Homo sapiens: one gene and its partners. The protein of the gene in region 1 interacts with the protein of each later gene in a pairwise test. Each region holds a gene or a part of one and is shown in the gene's direction. Other genes may lie near its edges. The genes, in order: PABIR3, DLST, alpha-crystallin A2 chain, GIPC1 and ZDHHC17.

Region 1 (3,521 bases):
TGGAAACAGAGAGATCTCAGTTATCCCTTCATACCTTGCTTTGTTCTGCAAAGGATTTTTTTGTTTTGTTTGTTTGTTTTTTGCTTATATTAGAGCATAGCTACAGTGTTACATTCCATAGCTTAAGATCCTGATGCATGAAGTAAAATTTGTACAGAAAGATAAGGGTCACTAGCATATTTCTGTAGTAGGAGTTTAAAGATACAGAAACCACAAAGTGGACGGAGTCCAGGGACTCTAGTCTGTCAGAAAGAAGTAACATAGGAATGATGTGTGACATCCCTGAGATTAGGGGACTTGCCCAGATGATCTGAGGGCATATTTTGTGCTGTTGTAGAAAATGTAGGGCATAGTCAGAGAAGTTATTCTGAAGCAAGAAAAATTTAGAGTAGGATTACACTGAGCCTTAGTTGAATTCATTTTCACCTCAGTTCTCATTTGCATATGTATACTGCTCACTTTTCTCCCTTTTTTTTTCCTTCCTTGGCCCTCTAATACTTGAGTACTTCCTCTTTCTAAACTATACCTGGCCAGTAAAGCATTCTTTTCAGAAAGGTGAAAGTCACTAGCATATTTCTTTAGTAGGAATTAAAGATATAGAAACCACAAAGTGGACAGAGTTCAGAGACTCCAGTCCCTCAGAAAGAAGTAACATAGGAATGATGTGTGACATGCCTGAGGTCAGGGAACTTGCCCAAATGATCTGAGGGGATGTTTTGTGCTGTTGTAGAAAATATTTAGCTTGCTAAACATTGTTGCACCTCTTTCAAGTAATTTTCGAACTTTGCTTGATGTTTCTTCTATATAAAGACCCTCTTGCACCAGCATTTGCAGAATTAAATTCCTTAGGTTTGTTTCTTTCATATCAACTCTTTAATACAGTATTACTGTTTTAAAGAAGTATCTGCACTGTTTTATGTATATCTTGAACTAATAAAAATTCCAACGTCAAAAGTTTTGAACCTCTTGGTTCTTTATACTCTTTATCTCTGTAATTGGCTGACTTTATTACTGGTGTCAATAACTATACTTAAAGCTAGGAGTTTTTTCTTCTCTTTCTCTGACCCTTATTCAAAGACTCAGAGATTAGGTTCTTGTATTCCTGCCAGTGCCTCCCTACCTTAAAAACCTCTACCTTGACCCTGCATTTAAACTGTTACTGCCTCAATTCTTTTTTTTTTTTTTCCTGAGATGGAGTCTTGAGGCTGGAGTGCAGTGGTTCAATCTCGGCTCACTGCAACCTCTGCCTCCTGGGCTCAAGCGATTCTCCTGCCTCAGCCTCCGAGTAGCTGGGACTACAGGCATGCACCACCACGCCAGGCTAATTTTTGTATTTTTAGTAGAGACGGGTTTCACTATGTTGGCCAGGCTAATTTTTGTATTTTTAGTAGAGATGGGTTTCACTATGTTGGCCAGGCTAGTCTTGAACCCTTGACCTTGTGATCCACCCACCTTGGCCTCCCAAAGTGCTGGGATTACAGGCGTGAGCCACCACTCCTGACCCTCAATTCTATTTGAAAGGCAAATTACTGCCCCAGAGCCAAATGCAGCCCACCACCTGGATTTGCAAATAAAATTTTATTGGAATGGAACCATCCCCATTTGTTTAGTTGTTATCTATGGCTACTTTCCCACTGCAGTGGCAGAACTGAGGAGTTGCAACAGATACTGTATGGCCCACAAATCCTAAAATATTTACTCTCTGGCCCTTCGCAGAAAAAGTTTGCCCATCTTCTGGTTTATTGAACTTTTACGAACGTGGAAGAATAGCAGCCATGAGAAATGATTGCTTTGGGAATATAAGTGACATAAATCTATTATAGTTTAGACAGAGCTGTTTATTGATCATTTGATGTGGAACATTGAACATCCATCCAGTTATACTACTTCTGCTTTTTCCGAGTTAAAAGTAGCACTTAGTTCAGATATCAGCTAGGGTTTTATAAATTCATGTTGAATGATGCATACCAGTTGAAGTATATATTGCCTGAATTCTTTCTTTCAGTTATAGTCTTACTAAAATTGGCAAACAAATTTAGGGTAGACTATATCATTGTCAGCCCTAAGTATTAAGCCCCCTACACATGTACACAAAAAAGAATGGAAAGAAATAGCCCATTAGTGTCCCTCCAATTTTCTTATGAGTGACTGCCAGAACATATTCCTATTCTCACAAAGAAAATGACTGGGAAAGTAAGTAGAATTAGATACATCCATATACCTTCCATTCACAAAATATTAAGTTACTGCCTGTTATATGCAAATTATGATGTTGCAAAGATGTATCTCAGGGCTCAATAAGCTTTAATAGGGAATATAAATACTAGAAGGACTTAAATATATGGTAGAGTAAGATAAGTGCGTAGGGAGCTTAAGATAAGTGCGTAGGGAGCTAAATAAAGTGCTAGGGGAATTCAAAGAAGGAAGGGAGAAATTACAGCGGGACTGGTGAGGGAGAAGGAAAAGTTTATGAAGAAGTTGGCATTTGAGATGGGCCTTCATGGATTGATAGGATACACCCTGGAAAAGAGGGGGAACAATGGTTGGGATAGTATTTTAAGTATTATATGTAGAACAGACTTGAAGGCAGAAAAGCATAGATGTGTTCCAGAGAACTGAATGGTCCACTTTGCCTGAACCCCTGACTCCCAGATGTTCATCTGCTGATCAGTGCTGATCTCAGGTGAAGTTTTTACCAATCCGTGCTTTTAAAAGAGTTAAGTACAGCATAATTAAAGATGTCATTATGTAGTTGTTAATTATCTTTCCTGGGCAGGACTGTACTGTACTCTGAGATTGTTATTCTCTTATTTTCTTAATACCAAAGGGTCATTTTACAAATGAAATGATGGTATTGGTCAATGGTGGGATTTAAAAAAAAATGACTTGGCAAAAGAAAAAGGTGGCAACTGTATGTTTCTGCCTAGATTTTGTTTTGAAATTGTACTAGTCCTTGAAATTGAAGAGTCTGGAGCCAAACCGTGGATGGCTTTGAATGTCATAGTAAAGAACGTAACTGAATTTGACAGGCACTGAAGAGAGTCACTGAAAGTTGTGAGCAAACTGTTCTTTAGGAAGATGCCCCTGGTAGTCTGTTAGCCTAGAGAAGGGAAAGAAGAGAGGCGAGGAGCCCAATTAGACTATGCAGTCTGTGGAAAAGGAAAAAGACCTTGAATTGGTTTTTGGCAAGGAGCCTGACAAGAATCAGGTGGTTATCAGAGAGCGAGTATAGAGGTAAAATCTAAAATACTGGCAGTTGATTGGATATAGGCAGCTAAAACAAAAGTATTACAGATGATTTCTCACATTGGAGGAACCTGGATGAAGGGTACATGTGAACCATCTGTATTCTTTTTGCAACTTCTTGTGAGTCTTAAACCGTTTCAAAATAAAAAGTTATAATAAAAAGGAAAAGATGCCGGGCACCGCTGGGATCTGTAGTCCTAGCTACTTGAGAGGCTGAGGCAGGAGCATCGTTGAGCCTAGGAGTTTGAGGGCAGCCTAGGCAATATACAGCGGGA
Region 2 (2,685 bases), on another chromosome or scaffold:
TGGGCCTCACTGGGAGCTTCGGCTTGGCCTCTCATGGACCTGGTGCTTATTTTCTTTCCTTTTTACTTACCTACGTCATTGTAGTGTTGACCTAACAAGCACTTTGTTTTCCTGTTGACACACTTCTCTGTTCCTTGGGAGATTGGAGAGGGGTCAGTGCTACTTTTGCCATCCTCAGCAGTGTCAGGGGCCCTAAAGGTCTAGAAGTAGAAGCCCTAGTCCCTCCTGTTGAGTGGTGCTCTAGGGAGGTAGAAGGCCATCTTTGTTTTGCCCAAATGTATACCTCTTCTTTTTCCCATTCTTCTCATGCCTCCCTGACTGGCTCTCATCTTTTTCAGTGGCCCCCTTCTGCTTGCCCACACATGTAGGCGGCTCTCAAAAGTTCTCGTGGCCTCTTTTTCACATTACATGCTTCCTCTGGATGTCTTATCTAACAATACAACATGGACTTTCTGCGGAAATGATTCCCAAGCCTTTATTTTCCCATTAGTTGCTAGGTGTACATTTTCAGATGCTGGTTTGCCATCTCTTGAGGTAGCATATTTCAAAGCCAGATCACCCCGCTTACTCTTGGATCTCCCCTCTTCCTCTTGTTGAGAGTTGGAAGCAGAGAATGGGTAGTATCTCTATATCCCTTTTCCTTTGCTAATTTGCCCTTTTTTGGAACATTTGTTAACCCTAGTCATTCTCTGCTAAAGGAGGGCTTGACTAGAGCTACTTAACGAGAGTTTAGTGCATACCTATCCTATGGAAGCCAGTGTGTTGAGCCCTTCTTAGGGCTGCCAAAGAAATGGATGCTCCTATGCCCAGGCTCAGTCAGGGACTTGGGAGATACTATACTTGGGATGGGAGTAAGTGGAATGCCAGCTGCCATGCATAATGCAGTGGTGTTCATGGTGGTTGGTCAGCCCACACTGTATCAAGCTCTGCAGATTTTTACTCTGTTAATGCACATATTACCTCATTAGTCTTGGCCTTCCTGGGGAGTTGTATGTAACATGTATTTTCTCTCTCATAGTGATTGACGACACAACCAAAGAGGTGGTGTATAGGGATTATATTGACATCAGTGTTGCAGTGGCCACCCCACGGGTATGTTGGGGCAGGAGGTGGGGAATGTTGGTCTTAGACCCTCACCTTATCTGTGTGAAGGAGATCACACAAGAGAAATCATTTCTTTAATTCTGTATTTTTAGAAGGGAGTTAGTAAAAGTAACCTTTTTTTTCTTTTAAACCATGCCGCATTCTTTTAACACTTTCTGTTAATCACACTGAGTAATGAAGGTATTCTAGGGAGGGCATACCATGGGTTGAATCAAGGGAGTTGTTAACTATAAAAGGTACTATTAATTTGCAACTGAAAACAGCTTTTCACCCCCTTCAGGGTCTGGTGGTTCCAGTCATCAGGAATGTGGAAGCTATGAATTTTGCAGATATTGAACGGACCATCACTGAACTGGGAGAGAAGGTAAAGTAGAAAGATGTATACAAGCTGCTAAGCAGGCGAGGGAAGAGAGCCTTCAGAAGGCTGGGCTCACTAGCAAGCAGTGCTCATGGAAAGTCAAGTGCATAGCCCCTGAGAAAAGCAGTTGCCCATGAGAGCTAAGTATTTTATATATCTGGTGGAGTTTACCATGCTCTGGTAACTGAAATCTCATCAGATGAGACCTGCTAGAAAAGATCATCTTTGAAGTCTTCAACTGTATGAAATTGTGCCTTTTCTCTGGTGGAGCACTGGTCATAGACACCTTAGCCGAACAACTGTCACACGGAAGCTAGCGCTTGTGCCATCGATCTCGATACAAGCTTTCTGGACTTCCTTTGCTTTTTTGTTTTTAGAGGCAGGGTCTCGCTGTGTTGCCCAGGCTGGAGTAGAGTGGTAGAGTCATAGCTTACTGCAGCCTTGCACTCCTGGGCTCAAGCGATTCTCCTGCCTCAGCCTCCCAAGTAGCTGGGACTACAGGTGTGCACCACCATGCCTGGCTAATTCTTAAGTTTTTTATACAGATGGGGGTCTCACTATGTTGCCCAGGTTGGCCTTGAACTCCTGGCCTCAAGCAGTCCTCCTGCCTCGGCCTCCCAAAGCGCTGGGATTATGGACTGACTTTAGGTGAAGGAAACTGGGTTGGCTTGATATTTCAATTATGAAATCTGTTTTTAGGCCCGAAAGAATGAACTTGCCATTGAAGATATGGATGGCGGTACCTTCACCATTAGCAATGGAGGCGTTTTTGGCTCGCTCTTTGGAACACCCATTATCAACCCCCCTCAGTCTGCCATCCTGGGGATGCATGGCATCTTTGACAGGCCAGTGGCTATAGGAGGCAAGGTAGGAACCGTCACTTCTAAGGTCCTAGTGGCTAGGTCTCGATGAAAGGGAAATCCAACTAAATGCTAATTGTAAAACATTAACTATAATTTCAGGCCTAAGTTCCATTTCTTAGTTTCTAATAGCTAAGGCACTGATTATCAAATTGTGGTCTGGATCAGCATCATCTGGGACCTTATTAGAAATGCATATTCTTAGACCCCATCCCAGACTTAAAGAAGAAGTGCAGATGATCCTGATGCATATTCAAGTTTGAGAACCACTGAGCTGAGGAGGCTTGTTTGCTTCTATGGAGTGGGGGATATAGTTGGAAACGTGGTCCCTTGCCCCTGGGAAACAGATGACAATTATGCATG
Region 3 (3,521 bases), on another chromosome or scaffold:
GAGATGGAGTTTCGCTCTCATTGCCCAGGCTGGAGTGTAAGGGATGGCCTGATCTCGGCTCACTGCAACTTCGGCCTGCCAGGTTCAAGCGGTCCTCCTGCCTCAGCCTCCCAAGTAGCTGGGATTACATGCATGCACCACCACACCTGGCTAATTTTGTATTTTTAGTAGAGACAAAGTTTCACCATGTTGGCCAGGCTGGTCTTGAACTCCTGATCTCAGGTGATCCACCCACCTTGGCCTCCCAAAGTGCTGGGATTACAGACATGAGCCACCGCACCCGGCCAAGTTTTTTCTTTTTTTATATGTAATAAGTTGGATAAAGTGTTTATAAAAAGTTAAAAGTAGGCCCTCAAGCAGGTAAAGTAGGCTTGCTTCTTTTCAGAGCTATCCATGCTGATTCCAGGCATAGAGAATGCCTCCTTTGCCCTATTCATTAAAGGGCTTCACCCTGAAGTCAGTAATCTAATAGAGAAACAAGCTAAGTTGAAAAGACCCTGTGATGGTTAATATTAGCTGTCAACCTGATTGGATTGAAGGATGGTAAAGTATTGTTCTTGGGTGTGTTGTGAGGGTGTTGCCAGAGGAAATTGACATTGGAGTCAGTGGACTGAGAGAGGAAGACCCACCCTCAGTGTGGGTGGGCACCATCCGATTGGCTGACAGTGTGGCTGGAACAAAGCAGGTGGAGGAGGGTGGGAGAAGCTGGCTTGCTGAGTCTTCTGGCTTTTGTAGCCACCCAGTGAGTTCACCTAGCCGGCTGCCTAGATGGAGCGGATTTATCAGGACAGGGGAATTGCAATGCAGAACGAGTAATTTACACAGAGCTAGCTGTGCGGGCGACTGGAGTTTTATTATTACTCAAATTAGACATCCCAAGAATTTGCAGATCAGAGTTTTTAAAGATAATTTGGCGGCTCAGGAAGTAGGAGTGCTGATTGATCTGGCTGGAGATGGAATCACAGGGAGGTCAAAGTGAGGTTTCCTTGCTGTCTTCTGTTCCTGGGTACAATGGCAGAACTGGCTGAGCCAGATAGCCGGTCTGTGTGGTATCAGCTGATCCATAGAGTACAGGGTCTTGCAGAATAAATACCTCAAGCACTGATCTTCGGATTACAATGGTGATGTTATCCCCAGGAGCAATTTCGGGAGGTTTGGACAGCCAGAGGCTGGATGACCTTTAAATCAAAATTTCTTTTTTTTTTTTTCAAAGAAGCCCCATTTTATTACAGAGAGCATACAAAGCCGTTTCCTCATAAGGAAAAGTACAGCTTCCCTTCTCCAGGGTGACAGATGAGCCTTTTCTGAAGTTCTCAGCTTTCTCTTCTATCGATATTTCCCATGTCAGTTAAAGTGTTTGTAGAGACAGCTGATGCGTTTATTGAGGTTGTGCAGCTCATCAGCAAACATTCTGTTTCCAACCATTTTCTTCTTTAGCATACAGCGTTGCAATTCATTCCCCTTCCAATCTCGAAGCCATATGGGGTCCCTGATCAGCTTTTGGGGTGCTTTTCAAAGTTTCCCAGGATCCTGATGTTGTCATACACTCTGAACATGGCCATCCTTTCGTTCCAAGGATCAACTACTTTGGGGGGTAGGAGCCTTATACCAATCAATCTAGGAATACCAAGAAAGAAGCTTCTGCATGCCACACCTAGTCCCACAGGCGCCTACCTGCCCTACATAAGAGGCTCCCTGCCATTTCTCTAGTCTGCCCCTTCAACAGCACACCAAATAAGCCCAAGAATGAGGACCAGATGTGGCCTTCAAGAAGACAACAGGAACCGTCCCTGTCGACTTCACACGGGTACTAACGTGAAGGCAGCCACCTTGGGCCTTAAAATTTCTAATCTTGTAGCTAATTTGTTACTCCTACAAAGGCAGACTGGTTCCTAGGCAAGAAGGGGATCTTTCTGGGAAATGGCTATTATCAATTTTGTTTCAGAGTCAAACTATAAGCTAAATTCCTTCCCAAGGTTAGTTGGCCTGTGCCCAGGCATGAACAAAGACAGCCTAAAGGTTAGAAGCAAGATGGAGTCAGGTAGGTCTGATCTCTTTCACTGTCATCATTTCCTCAGTTGTAATTTTTGCAGAGGCAGTTTCACTTTCATCTTTCTCCTGTGCTGGATGCCTCCTCCGTTCCCCCTGCCCTTGGACATCAGACTCCAGGTTCTTTGGCCTTTGGACTCTTGGACTTAAGCCAGTGGTTTGCTTGGGACTCTCGGGCCTTCAGCCACAGATTGAAGCCTGCACTGTTGGCTTCCCTACTTTTGAGGCTTTTGGACTCCGACTGAGCCACTCCTGGCTTCCTTCTTCTGCAGCTTGCAGACGGTGTATCATGGGACTTCACCCTGTGATGGTGTGAACTAGTTCTCCCTAATATACTCCCTTTCATATATATGTCTATTCTGTTAGTTCTGCCCCTCTGGAGAACCCTAACTAATGCAGACCCTTGTGTAACTTTGATATCCAAAATATGGCTTTCTAGCATTTAGCTGGCTATTTTGAAACTCTTTGTAAAAAAAATTTATATATATGAAGGAAATCTCCATTTGTAAGGGTGTCTCCCTCCCTGCACCCAAACTGCTAGAAACTGAAGATGGGGAAGACATTGGCTGAAGACACTGTCTTACAGTTTACATCACAGACCTTGCCTTCGGTGGAAATACTTTTCCTGGCAACCTCGTCTTCACTAGGTGTAGGGACCAGCCCCACAGGATCGGTGGGTTTTTCTCCCCATGTGCAGAGACGAGAGATTGTAGAAATAAAGACACAAGACAAAGAGATAAAAGGAAAGACAGGTGGGCCTGGGGGACCACTAACACCAAGATGCGGAGACCGGTAATGGCCCCGAATGTCTGGCTGCGTTGTTATTTATTGGATACAAAGCAAAAGGGGCAGGGTAAAGAGTGTGAGTCATCTCCAATGATAGGTAGGGTCACGTGGGTCACGTGTCCACTGGACAGGGGGCCCTTCCCTGCCTGGCAGCCAAGGCAGAGAGGGGGAGAGAGAGAGACAGCTTGCGCCATTATTTCTGCATATCAGAGACTTTTAGTACTTTCACTAATTTGCTACTGCTATCTAGAAGGCAGAGCCAGGTGTACAGGATGGAACACGAAGGCGGACTAGGAGTGTGACCACTGAAGCACAGCGTCACAGGGAGATGGTATGCCTTCGGATAACTGAAGGTGGGCCTGAGGCCCTCCACAAGAGATGGAGGAGTAGAGTCTTCTCTGAACTCCCGTGGGGAAAGGGAGACTCCCTTTCCCGGTCTGCTAAGTAGCCGGTGTTTTTCCTTGACACTGACGCTACTGCTAGACCATGGTCCGCTTGACAACAGGCGTCTTCCCAGACGCTGGCGTTACCGCTAGACCAAGGAGCCCTCTGGTGGCCCTGTCCGGGCATAACAGAAGGCTCGCATGCTTGTCTTCTGGTCACTTCTCACTATGTCCCCTCAGCTCCTGTGTCTGTATGGCCTGGTTTTTCCTAGGTTATGATTGTAGAGCGAGGATTATTGTAAT
Region 4 (3,521 bases), on another chromosome or scaffold:
TCTGCTGAACAGCCATTATTTATACTCATTCCAAGGCTTCTAACATGATGATACTATTTCCTCGTATTTCCACCATTCCAATATTTTTCTGTTGTCCACTAGTCGCCATCTCCACACATTCATCTATCACAAGGTTCATAAAGGGATCAAATCCCCGCAATATTCCTTGGACATGTCTGCCACCATTTAATTTCAATGAAAACTTCTTGTCCGTAAATTTTTTCAACTCAGGAGGGTGAGCTTTGCTCATGGTGTATACTCCATGGGCTCACAGATGCCTTGGAACAGAACGCACGGCTTCCCTCACGCTACCGCGGTAGGCCCAGCATCTTGTGCCTGGCGTCATCGACCTCGTTAGCCAATCGATTGTTCGAGCATGAGTTTCAATGGGGCAAACCTTATCCAAACCATAGCAGGCTGGGTGTGGTAGCTCATGCCTATAATCCCAGCACTTTGGAAGGCCAAGGCGGGAGGATTGCTTGAGCCCAGGAGTTCAGGACCAATCTGGGCAACGTAGTGAGACCCGTCTCTACAAAAAATAAAAATTAGCTGGGCATGGCTGTGAACACCTGTAGTCTCAGCTATTCAGGAGGTTGAGACAGGAGGATTGCTTGAGCCCAGGAATTTGAGGCTGTAGTGAGCTGTGATCACATCACTCCACTGCAGCCTGGACGACAGAGTGAGACCCCATTAAAAAAAAAAAATCAGGAAAACATAGCAACCTGTTACCTCCCTGCCCTCATGTTCTCACTATCCCCCCTTCACTCACTGTTCCAACCCCCCAGGCCTCCTCACTGTTCCTCAAACATGCCAATTGCATGCCCAGTTCAGGGCTTGGCTTTTCTTTCTTTTTTTTTTTTTTGTTTAGACCGAGTCTCGCTCTGTCGCCCAGGCTGGAGTGCAATGGCGTGATCTCAGCTCACTGCAACCTCAGCCTCAGGAGTAGCTGGGATTACAAGCATGCACCACTACGCCCAGCTAATTTTTGTGTTTTTAGTAGAGATGAGGTTTGCATGCACCACCATACCTGGCTAATTTTTGTATTTTTAGTAGAGACGGGGTTTCACCATGTTGGTCAGGCTGGCCTCAAACTCCTGACCTCATGATCCGCCTGCCTTGGCCTTCCAAAGTGCTGGGATTACAGGCATGAGCCACCGCGCCTGGCTAGGGCTTTTCTTTGTTTTTTTGAGATGGAGTCTCGGTTTGTCACCCAGGCTGGAGTGCAGTGGTGTGATCTCGGCTCACTGCAACCTCCGCCTCCTGCATTCAAGTGATTCTCCCACCTCAGCTTCCCGAGTAGCTGGGATCACAGGTGTGCACCACCACGCCCACCTGTGTATTGTATTTTTAGTAGAGATGGGGTTTTGCCATGTAGGCCAGGCTGGTCTCAAACTGCTGACCTCATGTGATCCGTCAACCTCAACCTCCCAAAGTGCTGGGATTACAGGCTTGAGCCACCATGCCCAGCCCCAGCTCAGGGCCTTTCTACTGGCTGTTCTCTCTACTTGGGACGTTCTTGCCCCAAATCATTGCATGAATGCTTCCTCCTGTGGTTCAGGTCTCAAGTTCAGCTTCACGTGCTCAGAGACGCCCTCACTGATCTTGTCTATAGAACTTGTCTTGCTTTGTCTCCATATCACTATTAAAAATTATATGAGGCTGGGCACAGTGGCTCATGCCTATAATCCCAGCTCGTTAGGAGTCCATGGCAGGAGGATTACTTGAGCCCAGGAGTTTGAGACCAGCCGGGACAACATAGCAAGACCCTGTCTCTAAAAAATAAAAATAAAAAAATTAGCAGGGCATGGTGGCAAGCACCTGTGGTCCCAGCTACTCAAGAGGCTGGGGCGGGAGGATCACTTGAGCCCAGGAGGGCAAGGGTGCAGTGAGCTCTGATTGCACCACTGCACCTCAGCCTTGGCAACACAGCAAGACTCTGTCAAAAAAAAAAAGGAAAATAAAGGAAAAAATTTATATTAGACATTTACACATTTCCCTGCTCCCTGTGCATTTCCTCTTCCGGACTGTCCACTTCTGGAGGTCATGTGCAGAGCCCCAGCTAGCCTATATAGCATCTGTGAGTGAATTAGAAAGACATCTCTTCGGCCGGGTGCAGTGACTCATGCCTGTAATCCCAGCACTTTGGGAGGCTGAGGCGAGCGAATCACGAGGTCAGGAGTTCGAGACCAGCCTGGCCAACGTAGTGAAACTCCGTCTCTACTAAAAACACAAAAAAAATTAGCCGGGCATGGTGGCGTGCACCTGTAGTCCCAGCTACCTGGGAGGCTGAGGCAGGAGAATTGCTGGAACCTGGGAGGCGGAGCTTGCAGTGAGCCAAGATTGCACCACTGCACTCCAGCCTGGGCAACACAGAACAGACTCTGTCTCAAAAAAAAAAAAAGAAAGAAAGAAAAAAAAGAAAAAAAGAAAGGCATCTCTTCCTCCTGGCAGACACCACACCAAGAAATATAGCTTGGCAGGCAGTGCACAGACCGAATTTCAGTCCTACTTGCCACCTTGGTCTAGTAATTTTGCACAGTACACAACTTGTGTAACTGAACATGGTGGCCCTAGTCAGGGATCTTGCTTTTTTTATTGAAGACAGTATCTAAAATGGTGCACAGAATACAGTAAGTACTAAAAAGAAAAAAAAAATTGTTTGAAGGGAGGGGAGAATGGAGAAAGAGAGAAATAAAGAAGCGGGCCGGGCGCGGTGGCTCATGCCTGTAATCCCAGCACTTCAAGAGGCTGAGGCGGGTGGATCACTTGAGGTCAGGAGTCTTCTGTAGTCACAGCTACTTGGGAGGTTGAGGCAGGTGAATCGCTTGAACCCAGGAGGCGGAGGTTGCAGTGAGCTGAGATCGCACCACTGCACTGCTGCTTGGGTGACAGAGCAAGACTCTGTCTCAAAAAAAAAAAAAAAAAGAAAGAAAGAAAGCAAGAAAGAAACAGAAAAAAAATGTATGTGGTGTAGAAAACAACCCCAAAAGTCTTAGTGGCTGAATTCAGCAAAGATTTGCTTTTTCTTCCTGCTACACTTCCATTGCGGCTCAGCAGGGGGCACCATTCACCGTAGTCATTCAGGGCCCGGCCTCATAGAGTCGCCACCATATCAAATGTGGCTCATCACCCTGCCTGGGAAAGATAGATCTCTGGAGGCTCCAGCACTTAAATGCCTCAGCCCAGAAATGTCATGTGCCACTTCCTCTCACAACCTATTTGCCAGAAATAATCATTTATCTGCCCAGTCACAAGGAGGCCAGGAAGTGCCATCCACCTGTTTGGTCCAAAGGGGGAGAGTCAGAAATTTTTTGCACACAGTGTTAGTGACTGTGGCTGAGAGGAAAATAGAAGCGTAGTCGCTTTCAGCCTCCATTTTCTCATCTGTTCAATGGGCATAATTGTAGCATAACGTGATCCCTGTGTTACAGTGTGGTGTGAGGGTTAAGGAAGGTCACAGGCCGGGCACGGTGGCCCATACCTGTCATGCCAGAGCTTTGGGAGGCCAAAAGCTCCTTGAA
Region 5 (3,521 bases), on another chromosome or scaffold:
GCCACAAGGTTTAAATTTGCTTCTGGATTTTTTTCCTTTGGTTCCTTTATTAGTATATAAATAAACAACTTTAAAAAAATGATATACTAAAATGAATAGGAGAGCTTATTATGCCGTTAGTTAATATCATAAATATGCTGATGTTTTATTGTGAAATATTACCTGTAAAGAAGCAAAAGTTTATTGTCCAAAGTTTCCCTGGCCATGCTGATATTAATTCAGTTAGTTATAAGATTGGATTAAACTTTGGATTTCTAAACGTAATATTTTTGCAGCCTGTATATATTTACAATGAAAGAATTAGCTCATTTCTTGGGATGATTGAGATAATATTAGAATGGACATAATAGAATATAGTAATTATTTACTATATATTTAAATAAGTTATGAGTACTTCCATACATTTTCAGACTGTTAATCTAGTTAAGACTTCTAAGAACCATAAAATCCTAAATGTATTTTGACATGTATCTATTTTAAAATAACTTTTCAAAATACATACGTAATCTTCCCACCATACCTTACTTGAAAAAGCTCTTCCCAGAGGATCCTGTTTGAAATAACTTTATATATCTAAGTGTTTATTCTTTTATGTTTTAGACAAGGCCATCTATCCATGGTTGTGCAACTAATGAAATATGGTGCAGATCCTTCATTAATTGATGGAGAAGGATGTAGCTGTATTCATCTGGCTGCTCAGTTCGGACATACCTCAATTGTTGCTTATCTCATAGCAAAAGGACAGGTAAAAAAAATCTCAGTGGTATGGATTTTAATCAGATGTTCTTCATAGTTTAAATGCCTAATATTATTGGTGTTGTAACAAGCCGTTGATATTTAAATAGCACTTTCTGATGGGTGAAGAACATAAATATAGTGAGTTTGATATGGAGATATTTAATGTACCTAACATAAAAGCCAGCATGAAAATCATGAACCAGATAATGATGAAGTTGGGTTTTTTATTTCTAAGAGTAATGGAGATAAAGCTCAGAAATTAAGAGAGAAAATATAAGTATCTATTTTTTCTTTATGTATTTTGAATATATCATCTGAATTCATCCAAACTTTTTTGAACTTATTTATTGGTTATTTTATATATTAAATATCTCTTGAGAGGGATACATTTTTTAAGATCAGTTTCTGCTGTATAAGATAATGCTGCTTCTTACTTGTCAGAAAAACATCATATTTTAAGTGGTTGTTCCTGATTTTTCTTGAGTGTGCAGTGACCATAATCACATTAAATATTACCAGTTTATATAATCATGTTTTTGTAATAAACGTATTTTGTTAAAAGTAATGTCACCCAGTTTTTCTTTAGTGTGTTTTTTCTGGTTATATTTGAACATTAATTTTATAAGTAAGGATCTCATCACAAGAATAACTTTAAGATATATGTATTTAATTTGTTGCTATCAACATGTATTTATTGTTAATTTAAAATTCTATGCGGATTTAGAATTTGAATACTATTTCTTTTAATGAAGGTTTTACAGTATTTGTTGTTGGCAGTCTCAAGCAGTGGCAGTTGTGTTGTGCATTATAGTTTAGGAAAAGAGGCATAGACTGATAAAGTTAATTGCTGGAAGGGGAGGGGGGGTTATTGTCTGTTACTGTGTTAAAAAACTACTGCCAAAATCTAATGGCTTAAGAACAATACCAACCAATTAATACGTCTCACAATTTTGTGGGCTTGGCTGGATGGTTTTTCTCCTTGGCTGGTGGCTGCAGTTGTCTGGCGGCTTGACTGAGCTGGAAGATTGGCTCACATATCTTGTGACTTGATAGGAATGGCTACAAACTGCTTAACTGGGAGGCTGGGGCAGCGAGGCCTCTTTCTTTCTCTATGTAGTGTCAGAACTTCTACTTTTCAATACCAGTCCATGTGGTCTTTCCAGCAGGAGAACTAGACTTCTTACATATTGGCTTAGAGCTCCCAAAAGAACAAAAGTAGAAGCTGTTTTGCATTTTTAAGTCTTAGGTCTTGAACTGACACAGCAACGTTTTTTCTCCATTCTATCAGTTAAAGTGAGTTAACAAGGGCCATAACCACCCGGAGGGAAGGGACCACACAAGGGTGTGAATACCAAGAGGCCAGGTTTATGGGGGGTCATCTGGAGAGCAACTGCTATAGGAGATTATTCTTGTTATTCTGCAGTTTTTTTCTAGAACAAACGTTGAAGCAGTAAATGGTGCTATAGCACATCACAAGGTCTTTAGTGGCCTTCCATATTGCAGAATAAATCTACAATACACATTCACTTTTTTACTTTCAGTTTTTAACTGGGAAAGAAAGGTGGTGTACATTTTTGAGTCTTCATGGTCTTTTTTTTAACTTATTGATTTTGGAGTTTGGATTATTTCATTAATCTTTTTAACCTCTGGTATAGTATATAGGCTATAAAATTCTCAAAGGGCAGGATTTCTACCTGTCAGTGCTTTTGGTACAAAAAGGGCATGATGATGATAATGATGATGATAAATGTCTGAGAAATAGTTTTTTTTTTCCATGAGTAAATTTTTTTTCTGCACACAAAGATAATAAATGTTTATTATGAAATATTCAGGCATAATAGAATATGACTTAGAAAATGAAATCTCACCTCTCCCCTTGGCCATCTGCTGACTGAGGTTACTTCCTTTAATAATGTAGTATGTATTTTAAGAGATTTTATTCCATGTACAGATTAAGCATCTGTAATCTGAAAATCCGGAATGCTGCGAAATCCAAAACGTTTTGAGTGTCAACATGATGCCACAAGTGGAAAATTTTACCCCTGACACCTTTGCTTTCCAATATAGTTCGTTGTACACACACTTTGTTTCATGTACAAAATTATTTAAAATATTGAATAAAATTGCCTTCAGGCTGTATGTATAAGGTGTATATGAAAGATGAATGAATTCCACATTTAGATTTTGGTCCCATTCTCAAGATTTTATTACATATATGCAAATATTTCAACATAGGAAAAACATACACATATTCAAACACTTCTGGTCCCAAGCATTTTACATAAAGGATACTCAACATGTATACACTAATATATTGTAAAAGACACTCTTCCAATGTGCATTGCATCATACTGTGAGGGCCCAGAGTTTTTCTCTGTGCTAGAGCACTGTGCCGTTTAACCCCTGGATACCTTTGAGCTCCACTTCTGCCATCTCCCCATCATCACTCTGCTTTAACTGCACTAGTTTTTTTTTGCTACTTTTTCAGCAACTCTGACATGCTGTTGTCTAAGGGCCTTTTGGTTGCTGTTTCTTCTGCTGGTATATTCTTTCCTCAGATAGTCACACAGTTTCTCTCTCTCTCTTCAGTCAGATGGTTGCTCAAATTTTATTAGTTCTGATTACATAGTTCCTAATTATAAGCAGTAATAAAATTAGCATATTTTTATTTCTTCTTCCCTTTCTCTTTTATCGACTGTAGTCAATAATATTGTTTTTCTTAATGTTAACTATGTTCTGATAAATTTTTACTACATTTTTATTACTTGATTTTTCAGCTTTAG

Evidence for each region.
Region 2: the proteins of PABIR3 (region 1) and DLST interact in binary tests that used the Homo sapiens proteins (3 or more experiments, as listed by UniProt).
Region 3: the proteins of PABIR3 (region 1) and alpha-crystallin A2 chain interact in binary tests that used the Homo sapiens proteins (3 or more experiments, as listed by UniProt).
Region 4: the proteins of PABIR3 (region 1) and GIPC1 interact in binary tests that used the Homo sapiens proteins (3 or more experiments, as listed by UniProt).
Region 5: the proteins of PABIR3 (region 1) and ZDHHC17 interact in a two-hybrid assay, tested with the Homo sapiens proteins (one large-scale study listed by BioGRID and IntAct).

What each region holds. Positions count from the first base shown.
Region 1 is NC_000023.11:134,810,230-134,813,750, forward strand, and holds part of PABIR3 (PABIR family member 1), read left to right. Parts: exon of another isoform or gene 1-954; intron 955-3,521.
Region 2 is NC_000014.9:74,898,905-74,901,589, forward strand, and holds part of DLST (dihydrolipoyllysine-residue succinyltransferase component of 2-oxoglutarate dehydrogenase complex, mitochondrial isoform 1 precursor), read left to right. Parts: intron 1-1,018; coding exon 1,019-1,092; intron 1,093-1,384; coding exon 1,385-1,468; intron 1,469-2,161; coding exon 2,162-2,329; intron 2,330-2,685. UniProt on the Homo sapiens protein: Dihydrolipoamide succinyltransferase (E2) component of the 2-oxoglutarate dehydrogenase complex. The 2-oxoglutarate dehydrogenase complex catalyzes the overall conversion of 2-oxoglutarate to succinyl-CoA and CO(2).
Region 3 is NC_000021.9:6,505,688-6,509,208, forward strand, and holds part of alpha-crystallin A2 chain, read left to right. Parts: intron 1-1,115; exon of another isoform or gene 1,116-1,702; intron 1,703-3,521. UniProt on the Homo sapiens protein: Contributes to the transparency and refractive index of the lens. In its oxidized form (absence of intramolecular disulfide bond), acts as a chaperone, preventing aggregation of various proteins under a wide range of stress conditions.
Region 4 is NC_000019.10:14,486,117-14,489,637, reverse strand, and holds part of GIPC1 (PDZ domain-containing protein GIPC1), read left to right. Parts: intron 1-3,521. UniProt on the Homo sapiens protein: May be involved in G protein-linked signaling.
Region 5 is NC_000012.12:76,809,113-76,812,633, forward strand, and holds part of ZDHHC17 (palmitoyltransferase ZDHHC17), read left to right. Parts: coding exon 1-8; intron 9-600; coding exon 601-745; intron 746-3,521. UniProt on the Homo sapiens protein: Palmitoyltransferase that catalyzes the addition of palmitate onto various protein substrates and is involved in a variety of cellular processes.